Linked DNA regions of Homo sapiens: region 1 is linked to region 2. The links come from fine-mapping of genetic effects on gene expression. A gene starts in region 2. The other region holds a variant in brackets. All regions are shown on one strand. Distances are between the middles of the regions.

The links. PIP is the estimated chance that this variant, and not a neighbour inherited with it, causes the effect. A credible set is the group of variants that fine-mapping cannot tell apart.
Region 1: its variant is the best candidate, but not a certain one, in a credible set for the expression of EDARADD in whole blood (TOPMed, PIP 0.51).

Annotation. Positions count from the first base shown.
Region 1 is chr1:236,491,282-236,494,200 of GRCh38, forward strand. No RefSeq gene overlaps it. Among named protein-coding and RNA genes, the nearest start is that of LGALS8, 31 kb to the right of the region's middle. The variant A/G (reference allele first, on the strand shown) is at 1,223.
Region 2 is chr1:236,393,185-236,396,103 of GRCh38, forward strand. It overlaps EDARADD (EDAR associated via death domain), which reads left to right and starts at 1,102. Exons shown (of 6, transcript NM_145861.4): 1 at 1,102-1,321. The coding sequence starts at 1,261. RefSeq lists an enhancer at 1,724-1,773 and a silencer at 1,974-2,383.

The sequences.
Region 1 (2,919 bases), 98 kb after region 2:
AGGCTGGAGTGCAGTGGCGACATCTCGGCTCACTGCAACCTCCGCCTGTCAGGTTCAAGCAATTCTCATGCGTCAGCCTCCAGAGTAGCTGGGATTACAGGTGTTTGCCACCAAGGCTGGCTAATTTTTAGTAGAGACGGGGTTTCACCATGTTGGCCAGGCTTGTCTCGAACTCCCAACATCAGTTGATCCACCCATCTCGGCCTTCCAAAATGCTGGGATTATAGGCATGAACCACCGCATCTGGCCTTGTCTTTCATCCTTAATGACACTTTAGTCCTAATAATGCTAAAATCATTTTCTACTCTTTGAATTGAAACACAGCTTATCTACATGAGCCCAAGGCAGTAGCAACATTCACCTCCATTTCTTCTCTGATCTCTACCTTCTGAACCCTGTGGACTTGGTTGTAAATGGATGAGGGCAAGTCTTGCTTCCTTCCCCTGTGTTTACAGAGGATCGTGGCTGAGATGCTGGGCCACACTCTGGGCCTGCTGGCACCCCTGGGCCGGTGGCTGCTGCCCCTCAGGGTGCTCACCACCTAGACCAGAAGAACCAAGGTGAGGGAGAGCCTGTTTTCTTTCTTCCTGTGGCTGCGGGGGCTGTGAGGCATGGGTCTAGTGGCTGTGTTTAGCTGGGGATGCCTCCTAGAAATCAGCTCCACCGTTGAAGAGATCAAAGCAATGCACAGTGCCACTTGAAATGAAACGATTGAGCTTATCAGCGCTTTTGCAAATGTACAAGAGGGTAGCTCCCCCGGACATCCTGAACTGAGCCATGCTCTTCTATTTTGTGTAACAGCCCAGTGACCCCTGAATCTTCCCCTGAGGCAGGTCCCCGAAGCTTCATGGAGGATGTTCCTCAGCTGACCAAGGTGAGGCTCTTGAGCTCCTAAATCTTTGTGATACTGTTTATACATCTTTGTGCTGTACTTTTTAAGCTGACTTCGTGTTATCACCTGTATGATTTTATGTTTTGCTTCTAAATAAGTACAGATTATTTTAAACTCTAATAATGGGTGCTACAAAATTAAAGATTATGTCAATCACTGTCTCTGATGAGTTATTTTATGTAGATTTCAACACAATCATTGATTCATGTGTACTCTTGGTCAGTCATCAGTCATCTGAGTACCTAGTGGGTTTCCAAAATGGGTCCTGGATGCTGGGGATGCAAAGATAAGCAACACATTTCTATCCTCAACAGCCTGTAGATGAGGGAG[A/G]ATCACTGCGGACAATCAGGGAAGTTACCGGAGAGAGCAGTGCACATGTGGTCTAGAAACTGGTGGAACAAAGTTGAGAATCACTGAACTAGGAGGAAAGACAGGTCACTGACAATCCAAGGCACAGTGACTCACACTCTAATCTCAGCACTTTGGGAGGCCAAGGCAGGAAGATCCACTGAGCTCAGGAGATAAAGACCAGCCTGGCTGACCTATGGAGACCCTTCTCTACCAAAAAAAAAAAAAAAAAAAAAAACATTAGCCTGGCATGGTGGGGTGTGCCTGTGGTACCAGCTATTCAGGAGGCTGAAGTGGGAGGATCGCTTGAGCCCGGGAGGTCAAGACTGCAGTGAATCATGATCACACCATTGCACTCCAGCCTAGGGAAGAGAGCAAGAAAGACCCTGTCTCAAAAACAGAAAAAAATCCAGTAAAATGTTTCAGATGTTGTTAAAGGTGATTTCACTGTTACTTTTCACCTCTCCTCATTTTACATCTCTGACCTATGCTTGTCCTCTGACTTGCCAGACATTCCTAGCTATGGACTTGATGTCTCGACATGGAGGCTCACAGGCACCCCAAACTCAGCCTGCCCTAAGCTGAACCCATGATCTTTCCTTCCAAACTTGTTTCTCACCAGAGTTCCCATCTTATCATCCACCTAGTTGTTCAAGTCATCCTTAAGACCTCCCTCTCCTTCACTGTCTATTCTACCTCCCTAATATCTCTTAAATCCTTCCCTCCTCTCCCACCTCACAGCCACCATCCTAACCTAAGCAGCCACCCTTTCTCACCCTATAATGACCTCCTGGCTGTTCTCTATAGAGTTGGTGAATCCTTTCGTCTTCAGCCTGAACCCCCTTTCGAGGGATTCTTATATATATACATAGATATACACAAATATATATGTACATATGTACATATGTGTGTATATATGTACATATGTGTATGGATATACATATGTACATATGTGGATGTACATATGTACATGTGTATGGGTGTACATATGTACATGTGTATGGGTGTACATATGTACATATGTGTATGGGTGTACATATGTACATATGTATATGGGTGTACATATGTACATGTGTGTATGGGTGTACATATGTACATGTGTGTATGGGTGTACATATGTACATGTGTGTATATATGTACATGTGTGTATGTACGCATGTACATATGTGCATGTATGTGCATGTGTATGTGTGTGTATGTACACGTGTGCATATGTGTGTATATGTGTACACGTGTACGTGTGTATATATATATATATATATATACTGGCTGGAGTGCAGTGGGAAAGTTTTGGCTCACCACAAACTCCACCTCCCAGGTTCAAGTGATTCTCCTGCCTCAGTCTCCTGAGTAGCTGGGATTACAGGCGTGCACCACCATGCCCAGCTAATTTTTGTATTTTTAGTAGAGACGGGGTTTCACCATGTTGGCCAGGCTGGTCTTGAACTCCTGACCTCAGGTGATCCACCCACCTCGGCCTCCCAAAGTGCTGGGATTACAGGCGTGAGCCACCGTGCCTGGCCGGATTCCTATCTTGAAGACGAAGCCCCAGACCATCGACACGGCCTCAAGGCCCTGCATGACGCCTCCTGCCCCAACACCTCGTGTCATCTTGCTCTCCTCTCCCGCAGCTCCTGAGGCTTTAGCCACCCTGGAATTCCAAGTCCCCATGGTCATTT
Region 2 (2,919 bases):
TGACAGGTCCATCAGCGAAATCCAGCATATTTGACTCCATGATTACCAAATGCACTATCTCCATTTATTGGAAAAGGAAAATTGGAGGTCACTCAAAGAGCAGTGAAGTTATGGAAATATGAAATTTTTCACATGACTCTGAGATTGAGTGTTTGGGTACTATCGGGAAATGTTAAAAATGTCCATTTTCTTTTCTTTCTTTCTTTCTTTTTTTTTTTTTTTTTTTTTTGAGACAGAGTCTCACTCTGTCGCCCAGGCTGGAGTGCCGTGGTGCAATCTCAGCTTACTGCAACCTCCACCTCCCAGGTTCAAGCGATTCTTTTGCCTCAGCTTCCTGAGTGGCTGGGAGTACAGGCATGTGCCACCAATCCAGCTAAGTTTTTTGTATTTTTAGTAGCGGTGGGGTTTCATCACATTGGCCAGGCTGGCCTCGAACTCCTGACCTCAAATAATCCACCTGCCTTGGGCTCCCAAAGTGCTGGGGTTACAGGTGTGAGCCACTGCACCCAGCCCAAAAATGTCTATTTTCAATAGTGGTTTAAAACACTCTTGGACAGCAAAAGAAATAAAAGTTGAAGGACATTGTGACAGCAAATTGATTGTATGGGAACTCTGGTGAATGCGAATCATTTTTAAATTACTTTTTTTGTAAAGTGCAAAACAACAATAGCACCCATTTGCGTCATACTTTATAGTTCGCAAAGCACATGGGAAAAATAAAGGTAATGATGGGGATCGTTGCAATTCATAGGAAAGGAGGCACGAGGAAATGAAAATGAAAGGGAGTAATAACTACGTAACTAGTCAATCTTCCTTAAAAAAAAAAACCCTTAAAATATACCACCATCTTCTATTTGATATAATGCAGAATGGGAATGATAAAAACATGAATTACATTTCAGAGTTTCAAAAAGCAAACCAGCTTTATAGCAATGCTTGAGGTTGGGCTGCTAACAAGCTCACTCAACTAGTGTTTCCTGACGGCCAACGTCAGAATAATTCCATCTCCATGAGAAGTACAGAAAGAACCACAAACCAAACCTCCAAATTGATTCTAAGATAAAATACCCTTAAAAAAAATTTCCCTTCCTATCCGAAGGCAGACCAAGAGGAAGTTTATCCTCCCACCTACAAATTCCCCAGAGAGCTTTCATCTAGAAGGTTTGACTCTGGCCAGACAACCAGCGAGCATCTTCTCGCAATCTGTTGCTTCTTCCATGGCAAACTCCAGAGAATTAAGAAGCCAAACTCAACATCGCCATGGGCCTCAGGACGACTAAACAGATGGGGAGAGGCACTAAAGCTCCTGGTCACCAAGAGGGTATGTAGGCATTTGCTGTCTTCCTGGATTTCTCAGAGCTGAGTTTTTAGCCAGAGGTTGCTTATTTACGATAATTCTTGGATATATTATACACTAAATACTATTATTATCTTTTTCGACCCGACTTTTATCTTTCTGTTCTTATGTGTGAAGGCAGAGAAAGATTATTTAGAGCTCTTCAAAGATTCCTATTTAATTTAAAATGCCTGTCGCCTTCCTATAATAGGCTTATGATGGATGATAGCTTTAGTTAAAATGTAGCAATCTTAAATATATTCTTCATAACCAATTCCAACGTGTTCTCACTTAAGTAATGGGTATAAAACCCCACTTAAGCGTAATATTTTAAATATTTGAAGCCATCTTTTCTGAGAGAACCCGAAGCTGTTTTTTCTAGAGAAGCTGTGAGTGTGTATTGGGCGACTTCTGTTCACTCCTTTTCTGCAGCACTCACCCTGGAGGTCATGTAGTAACTAATGCCAAAGAAAAATCAAAATAGAAAGTACCAGCGTGTGCCATCATGCAGCGGCAGAGCCTGCTTAAAGATCAGGAAATTTGTCTAAATATCAGATCGCCGGCGGGCATCTCAGCCCAGGCCTGTGTAAGGGGAGTTCTGGTGTCTCAGCTGAGGGCGTGAGTAGGGAGCCAGGAAAGCGACCCGCGACTGCAGCCGTTTCTTAAGGCCAGTCCTTCGCTCGCAGTCTGTCCCGGGCGGCAGTCGTGTCAGCCCCCCGCTAGGACCCGCCCAGGGGGACGTGGGTACCGGGCAGGACGCGCGCTCTGGGCGCTGGGGACGCCCGGGACACTCGGGGCCCCGCCTTGCGTCCCAGCCCCGGGTCGCGGCACCCCGGCTCCCGCCCCGCGCCTCTGGAGGGAGGTACCGAGGGACGCGCAGCGAAGGGGCTTTGCTAATTGCCAAAGCAGGAAGTGAGCTCGTGGAAGAAGCGAAGGAGGAGAAGAAGAAGGGAGGGGAAGGCGGAGGAGGGCAGGGGCGCGCAGAGCCACGGTTTGCTCCAGGCGCGTCGGAACCGCAGGACTTTTCATCCCCGTGGTCCCACGGTCCTCCCGCGCCCCGGAGGCCTGCCAGCCCCGCTCGGACGCTCGTTTGCCCCTAACCCGCCGCCATGGCTTCACCGGACGACCCTCTGCGCGCAGGTAAAGGGACACAGCGCCGCGCCCGCTCCTGGAGCGAGCACCGCGGGGCGGGAGCTCGGGAGGCGCTCGCAGCAGCCGCAGGGCTATCGAGGCCGGGCCTCGGCGACCCCCGAGGGAGGCCCGGGAACCACCCCCGACCCAGGCGCCAGACCCGGAGTCGCACGGGGCTCCCAGTCCAGCCCCGCGAGCGGCTGCTGACCGCCCCTCCCGCGCTCGCCAGGGCCCCTGCCCCGCGTCAGCCACCGCGCGCCTTCCCCCTGCCCATGCCGCAGCCCCCGTGGCTTTTGTTCTGGACTCGGGATGCCAGGTTGAGACACGTCCTGCAAACCTCTGGCAGAAATGGGCGCAAGGGGGTGGATTTCGTTTTCGCCTCCCGGGCTTTTTCTTTCTCCCCGCTCACATGCCTTCTCATTACTCCTCTTCCTCTCTCCCATTGCACTTTG